3 separate regions of the Homo sapiens genome follow, and regions 1 and 2 are each linked to region 3. Evidence: fine-mapped expression QTL. A gene starts in region 3. Each other region holds a variant in brackets. All regions are shown on one strand. Distances are from middle to middle. Region 1 overlaps ZNF461 (zinc finger protein 461). Region 2 overlaps ZNF850 (zinc finger protein 850). Region 3 holds the start of ZNF461 (zinc finger protein 461).

The links. PIP is the estimated chance that this variant, and not a neighbour inherited with it, causes the effect.
Region 1: its variant is the best candidate, but not a certain one, in a credible set for the expression of ZNF461 in whole blood (TOPMed, PIP 0.67).
Region 2: its variant is the best candidate, but not a certain one, in a credible set for the expression of ZNF461 in whole blood (TOPMed, PIP 0.59).

The regions. Positions count from the first base shown.
Region 1 is chr19:36,645,212-36,647,977 of GRCh38, reverse strand. All of the region lies in intron 4 of ZNF461 (zinc finger protein 461), which reads left to right. Among named protein-coding and RNA genes, the nearest start is that of ZNF461, 20 kb to the left of the region's middle. The variant G/A (reference allele first, on the strand shown) is at 1,334.
Region 2 is chr19:36,745,997-36,748,738 of GRCh38, reverse strand. It overlaps ZNF850 (zinc finger protein 850), which reads left to right. Exons shown (of 5, transcript NM_001193552.2): 5 at 1-2,742. The coding sequence ends at 972. Among named protein-coding and RNA genes, the nearest start is that of ZNF850, 25 kb to the left of the region's middle. The variant T/C (reference allele first, on the strand shown) is at 1,450.
Region 3 is chr19:36,665,577-36,668,342 of GRCh38, reverse strand. ZNF461 (zinc finger protein 461) reads left to right here and starts at 1,506. Exons shown (of 6, transcript NM_153257.5): 1 at 1,506-1,653. It also overlaps a transcript of ZNF567 not described here. RefSeq lists an enhancer at 1,200-1,329.

The sequences.
Region 1 (2,766 bases), 20 kb after region 3:
ACTCCTGATCTCAGATAATCTGTCCACCTCGGCCTCCCAGAGTGCTGGGATTACAGGCATGAGCCACCACACCCAGCCCACACACTTTCAAGGACCAGATATCATGAGAACTCACTCACCATCATGAGGATAGCACCAAGGGAATGGTGCTAAACCATTTATGAGAAAACCGCTCCCATAATCCAGTTACTTCCCACTAGGCCCCACCTCCAACACTGGGGATTACAATTCCACATGAGATTTAGAGGGGACACATATCCGAGCTATATCATACAGCCACTATGGAAAACAGTATGGTAATTTCTCAAAACATTAAAAATAGAATTGCCATATAATCAAGCAATTCTACTTCTAGGTATATACGCAAAAGAATTGAAAGTAAATTGAAAGTGGAATTTTAAATTAGAATGTTATTTATTTATTTATTTTTTGCTTTTTTGAGACAGAGTCTTGCTCTGTCACCCAGGCTGGAGTGCACTGGCGCATCTCAGCTCACTGCAACCTCCACCTCCTGGGTTCAAGCGATTCTTCTGCCTCAGCCTCCCAAGTAGCTGGGATTACAGGCACCCACCACCACACCCAGCTAATTTTTGTATTTTTAGTAGAGACAGGGTTTAACCATGTTGGCCAGGCAGGTCTCAAACTACTGACCTCAAGTGATATGCCTATCTCAGCCTCCCAAAGTGCTGAGATTACAAGCGTGAACCACCACACCTGGCCTAAATTAGAAAATTGTTGCATAATGTCAACTACAGCTGAAGAAATTTATATCCTATGATGCAGCAATTTCACTCTGATGTGCATACCTAACAGAAAAGAGTAATTATTTCCACCAAAAGAAATGTACAGGAATGTTCATAGCAGCACTAATCATAATAGTCAACTATTGGAAGCAACCAGAATGTCCATCATTAGGTATATGGGAAAATAAATTGTGTTAGAATGCAATGCTATATATAGTTATCAGTCTCAAACTTTTTATTCTCAGGATGCCTTTATATTCTTAAAAACTATTGAGAACCCCAAGAGCTCTTGCATATGTAGATTATATCCTTCAATATTAACTGTCTTAGAAATTAAATCTAGGAAAAATGAAATATTCATTTAATTCATTTAAAAATAATAAACTATATGTTAACATAAATAAGTTATATTTTCCAAAACAAAACGAAAATAGTTATTGTGAAAAGTGGCAATGTTTTTCATTTTTTGCACGTTTCTTTAATGCTTGGATTAAAAGAAGACACGTGGATCTCACATCTGCCTCTGAATTTAATCTATTAAATTAAAACTCACTAGTCTGTCTTGTTTTTTGAATGGATCTCTTATCTGT[G/A]GTACCTGTTTTGTAACATGATGCATTAGTTATTTGGAAAATATTGCTCCAATTAGTTATGCAGATCTTCCAGACTTTGACACATTTTCTTATAAAATAGCCAAAAAATCATACTTGTTAATAACACCACGAATCTAATCAGGTAAGTCTTTAAGTATTTGGAAGCTGTCAAGCTCACAGGGGCTGACACAAACTTTCCTAAAGTCTAATTTTGACCAGGTGTGGCAGCTCATACCTCTAATCCTAGCACTTTGGGAGGCAGAGGAGGGTGGATCACCTGAGGTCAGGAGTTCGAGACCTGCCTGGGTAACATGGTGAAACTCCGTTTCTACTAAAAATACAAAAAATTAGCCGGGCGTGGTGGCACACGCCTGTAATCCCAGCTACTGGGGAGGCTGAGGCAGGAGAATAGCTTGAACCTGGGAGTCGGAAGTTGCAGTGAGCTGAGATCACACCATTGCACTCCAGCCTGGGCAACAAGAGTGAAACTCCATCTCAATCAACAACAATAACAACAACAACAATAACAACAACAACAACAACAACAAAATAGTCAAAATCTGGCCAGGCACGGTGGCTCACGCCTGTAATCCCAGCACTTTGGGAGGCTGAGGCGGGTGGATCATGAGGTCAGAAGTTCCAGACCAGCCTGGCCAACATAGTGAAACCCTGCCTCTACTAAAAATACAAAAATTAGCCGGGCATGGTGGCTCACGCCTGTAGTCCCAGCTACTCAAGAGGCTGAGTCAGGAAAATCGCTTGAACCCGGGTGGTGGAGGTTGCAGTTAGCTGAGTTCGCTCCACTGCATTCCAGCTTGGGAAACAGAGCTAGACTCCATCTCAAAAAAATAAATAAAATAAAGCTTCAGTTATGCAAGATGAGTGGATTCTGAATATCCACATTCAGACTCCAGAATATTATGACTCTAGTTTGCAGTACTGTATTGTATATTTGAAACGTGCTGAAGGTACATGTTTTTTTGTTACCACAAAAAAAAGAAAACAGTTAACTATGTAAGGTGATGAATAGGTTAGTTAGCTGACTGTGGTGATTATTTCACAATGTAAATGTATATCAAATCATCAGGTTGTATCCTTTAAATATATAAATTTTAATTGTCAATTTTCCCTCAATAAAGTGGGAAATAAAGTGTTTCTCAAAAAATACTCAGTGTTTCTCAAAAACAAATATTGAGAAATTTAACTGTGGATGCTATAATTAATATTTATTTACATTGGTGCTGTATGCTAAGAAATAGAAAAAAGTATTTATTAAATATGTAAACACTTTAAAAAATTTTCTTGTGTTGTAAATACTTTACATGAGATCTACCCTCTTAATGGAATTTTAGGTGTACAATGCAGTATTGTCCAGTGTGGGCACAGGGTTATACAACAGATCTTTTTTGTTGTTGTTGAGACAGGGTCTCACT
Region 2 (2,742 bases), 80 kb before region 3:
TCTCACTCAACACTAATTCAACATCAGCAAATACACACTGGTGAGAAGCTCTATGATTGTAAGGAATGTGGGAAATCTTTTACTTCTCATTCAACACTAATTCAACATCAGCCACTTCACACTGGTGAGAAACCTTATCATTGCAAGGAATGTGGGAAATCTTTTACTCTTCGCTCAGCACTAATTCAACATCGGCCAGTTCACACTGGTGAGAAACGCTACAGTTGTAAAGAATGTGGGAAATCTTTTACTTCTCGCTCAACACTAATTGAACATCAGCGAATTCACACTGGTGAGAAACCCTATCATTGTAAGGAATGTGGAAAATCTTTTGCTTTTCGCTCAGCAATAATCCAACATCGGCGAATTCACACTGGTGAGAAACCCTATGATTGTAAGGAATGTGGCAAGGCCTTTAGACGTCGTTCAAAACTTACTCAACATCAACGAATCCATACTGGTGAGAAACCTTATCGATGTCATGAATGTGGAAAAGCCTTTGTCCGTTTCTCAGGACTCACCAAACATCACAGTATTCACACTGGCGAGAAACCCTATGAATGTAAGACATGTGGGAAGTCCTTCAGACAGCGTACACACCTTACTCTACATCAGAGAATTCATACCGGTGACAGACCTTATGAATGTAAAGAATGTGGGAAATCTTTTACTTGCGGCTCAGAACTAATTCGACATCAGCGAACTCACACTGGTGAGAAACCTTATGATTGTAAGGAATGTGGGAAGGCCTTTAGATGTCCTTCACAACTTAGTCAACATAAACGAATCCATACTGGTGAGAAAACTTATCAATGTCCGGAATGTGGGAAAGCCTTTTTCTATGCCTCAGGACTCAGCCGACATCAGAGTGTTCACACTGGCGAGAAACCCTATGAATGTAAGACATGTGGGAAGGCCTTTAAACAGCTTACACAGCTTACTCGACATCAGAGAATTCATGACCTAACATAATTAATGTAGGAAACTGTTCTCATGCCATTTGTCATGGATCATCAGCAGATTCCATATGTGGGTCAAATACAATGGATGTGTATTACTTCATATTCACTTTTTCCAGAATTACGACTTTTTTTTTTTTTTTTGAGACGGAGTCTTGCTCTGTCGCCCAGGCTGGAGTGCAGTGGCGCTATCTCGGCTCACTGCAAGCTCTGCCTCCTGGGTTCATGCCATTCTCCTGCCTCAGCCTCCCTAGTAGCTGGGACTACAGGTACCTGCCACCACGCCTGGCTAATTTTTTTGTTTTTGTATTTTTAGTAGAGACAGGGTTTCACTGTGTTAGCCAGGATGGTCTCGATCTCCTGACCTGGTGATCCACCCACCAAAATTAGGACATTTAATACTGAAAGAAATTGATAATGAATGTAGATGAGTTTTCTATCATGATTCAAAGCTTATTGAAGTTATACAAATTCATATTAGAGAATGTGG[T/C]CAATGACAAAAGACAACCATTTACTACCTACGTGACATTAGGCTAGTTATGTAAATTCTCTGTGCCAAAATTACTAATTGATAAAATGTTGATGGCAATAGTTGTTTTTGTGTATTTTTTGTTTGTTTGTTTTGTTTTGAGACAGAGTCTTGCTCTGTTGCCCAGGCTGGAGTGCAGTGGTGCTATCTTGGCTCACTGCAACCTCTGCCTCCTGGGTTCAAGTGATTCTCCTGCCTCTGCCTCCTGAGTAGCTCAGATTACAGGCATGCACCACCATGCTTGGCTAATTTTTGTATTTTTAGTAGAGACGGGGTTTCACTGTGTTGGTCAGGGTGGTCTCAAACTTTTGACCTCGTGATCCCCCTACCTCGGCCTCCCAAAGTGCTGGGATTACAGGTGTGAGCCACCACGCCTGGCTAGTAATAGTTTTTTTATAATAAATAAGTGTGACTATATTTTTCATGTTTGACTACTGACTTTGTTTTAAGCTTCGCCTTCCCTGTCTATTTCCCTGTCTACTTTAGCCCATAACTGCAAAGGTGGCTAAGAAAGTCCTTGCTGGAAAGAAAGCAAGCAAAACTAAAGTCTGTGCGCACCTTCTCCTTTGGATCCAGTGGGCAATTTATATTAGAAATTCCAAGCCGGGCGTGGTGGCTCACGCCTGTAATGCCAGCACTTTCGGAGGCTGAGGTGGGTGGATCACCTGAGGTTAAGAGTTCAAGACCAGCCTGGCCAACATGTTGAAACCCCATCTCTACTAAAAATACAAAATCAGCCAGACATGGTGGCATATGCCTGTAATCCCAGCTATTCAGGAGGCAAGGCTGGAGAATCGCTTGAACCTGGGAGGCGGATGTTGCAGTGAGCCAGTCAGTGGAGCAGTCAGAACACACACAGTGTTTATCAATTAAGTTTGTAGTCAGAACACACACCATGTTTATCAATTAAGTTTGCTGTCTTATATGGACACAGTTTGTGATGCCCTAAAACAAGTAGTGGTGCCTAAGATAATCATAGGCCACCATAACAGATATAACAACAATGAGAAAGTTGAAATATTGTTGGGATCATCCAAATATGACACAGATACAAAGTGAGCACATGCTGGTGAATAAATGGAGCCAATAGACTTGTTCACTGCATGGTTACGTCAGAGGCGTGTAAACCAGAGCAACTTCTTCTTGAATAGGAGCTGTGTAAAGTAACACTGAAACCTACTGGACTGCATTCCTAGACAGATAAGTCATTCTAAGTCACAAGATGAGATATGAGGTCAGCATAAGATACAGGTC
Region 3 (2,766 bases):
CCCACAGGGGCCACTGCGGGAGTGGCGGCGCTCGCCGCATGAGCCCCACGCGGGCATATAGAACAGCCATTCTCAAAAAGCCTCAAAACCGTTTCACCACCCAGCGCGGTGGCTCACACCTGTCATCCAATACTTTGGCCACTGAGACGGGAGGATCGCTTGAGCCCAGGAGTTCGAGACCACCAGCCTGGGCAACATAGCGAGACCCTGTCTTTACCAAAAAAATAAAAATAAAATAAATCGTTTTGGCCTGACCCGGTGGCTCACGCCTGCTATCCCAGCACTTTGGGAGGTGGATGCGGGAGGAGCTGAGGAGGTGGAGACTGCAGTGAGCTAGGATCGCGCCACCGCAGTCAGCCTGGGCAACAGGGCATGAAGACCCTGTCTCAAAAAGAGGCCGGGCGCGGTGGCTCACGCCTGTAATCCAGCACTTTGGGAGGCCGAGGCGGGCGAATCACGAGGTCAGGAGATCGAGACCATCCTGGCTAACACGATGAAACCCCGTCTCTACTAAAAATACAAAAAATTAGCCGGGCGAGGTGGCGGGCGCCTGTAGTCCCAGCTACTCGGGAGGCTGAGGCAGGAGAATGGCGTGAACCCGGGAGGCGGAGCTTGCAGTGAGCCGAGATTGCGCCACTGCACTCCAGCCTGGGCGACAGCGAGACTCCGTCTCAAAAAAAAAAAAAGAAAAAAAAAAAGTTGAGTGAAATATATGACGTACAGTTTTTTGTTGTTGTTGTTGTTTGTTTTTTCTTGCCCGGGCAACAGGGCAAGAAGACTCTGTCTCTAAATAAATAAATAAATGGAGTCAAATATATGACATACAGTTTTGTTTGTTTGTTTGAGAAGGAGTTGCTCTGTCGCCCAGGCTGGAGTGCAATGGCGCGACCTCGGCTCACCGCAACCTCTGCCTCCCGGGTTCAAGCGATTCTCCTGCCTCAGCCTCCCGAGTAGCTGGGATTACAGGCATGCGCCATCACGCCCGGCTAATTTTGTATTTTTAGTAGAGACGGGGTTTCTCCATGTTGGTCAGGCTGGTCTCGGTGATCCGCCCGCCTTGGCGTGAGCCACCGCGCCCGGCCAAAAAAAAAATTTTTTTTTAAATCGTTTCACATACAAATCTCACGCGCTACACCCTCACCGTCAGTTCATATCCACCTTCTCCTCCGGAGTCACCTTCGGACACGCGCACAACAAAACACCTTTCTCACCACAACTCCACAAAGGGAAGCCGGGTTAGTCCGCGCCCGCCGAAAATTATCTTCAGCCACAGCCCGCGGAGGCCGCCTTGAGGGGTTCGGGGCAGCCACTGTGCCTATTCCGAAATCCGTCCTCAGCGGAACCCGAAGTCCAGAATCCGAAAACGAACATTAACAGGTTGGCGTCACTCCAGCCTCGGGTGAAACTGCGCAAGTGCATCCCGGAGCCCGGCGGAACACACCCGCTCCACCCCAGGCGCTCTCCCCTCGGACTGCATTTCCCAGAGGACACTGCTGTCCACAGCTACTTCCGGTAGGAGCCTCGCAGGAATGGTCTCCGGGTAGAGGCAGGTAAGGATGTCCCGGGCCGGTGGAGAAGGAAGAGCTGGGCGTGTGGCTTCGCTTGGAATCCGAATCAGAGCTTGGACCAGAGCCTTCCCTGAGAATGCTGAAGGTAAGAAATCCTGGCTCACCAGTGCCGCGGAAGGGAATGTCTATAGTTTTAGGCCTCTGAGTGCGGGATCAGCCCTTAGGTGGGTGTGTTTTGAATGCGTGAGGAAGTAGGGTTTCTCTTTGGGCTGTGTGTTACTGTTGGGACAGCGACCTGGTGCGTGGGTGTGCTTTAGTGACAGTGTGATTGTGTGCCTGATCATTTGTGTAAATGGGGTTTGTAGGTGACTGTGACCATGATTGTGAATGGCTATTTGTGTAAATCTCATTTATTTACGTGAAAGAAAAAGCACATTTACAGGCCGGGAGCGGTGGCTCACCCCTGTAATCCCAGCATTTTGGGAGCCCGAAGCGGGTGGATGCCCTGATGTCGGGAGTTCGATACCAGCCTGGCCAACGTGGAGAAACCCCACCTCTACTAAAAATACAAAATTAGCCGGGTATGGTGGTGCATGTCTGTAATTCCAGCTCCTTGGGAGGCTGAGGCAGGAGAATCGCTTGAACCCGGGAGGCGGAGGTTGCTGTGAGCCGAGATCGCGCCATTGCACTCCAACCTGGGCAACAAGAGTGAAACGAAACTGTCTCAAAAAAAAAAAAACAAAAAAACATTCACGTTATCCTCAGGCTCACACGATCAGGCAGAGAGCTTCCACTCCTCTCAGTCAACTCTGGTCTCTCACACACAGACACACGCACATTCACCTCACCCCGCTCCTGTGCACACATCTAAGGCTCAGGACGCCCCACTCCAGAGATCTGTCATTCATCCATCTCTCATCCTTTCCTGACTACTTGAGGAGTTAGCTGTAGATTTACACACACAACACAAGCGAAAATCACATTGCTACCCCGCATTTATCATTACAGCCTCAGAAAAACACCACATATGTAGTATGCTTATGTACCTATGTGTTTGATTTTTTTTTTCTGAGATTTGGCCACAATACACATTGTTCTGCAACTTCCTTTTTTTTTTTTTTTTTTTGAGACGAAGTTTCTCTCTTTCACCGTGGCTGGAGTGCGGTGGCGCGATCTCGGCTCACTGCAACCTCCGCCTTCGGGTTTTAAGCAGTTCTCCTGCCTCAGCCTCACGAGTAGCTGGGATTACAGGCATCCG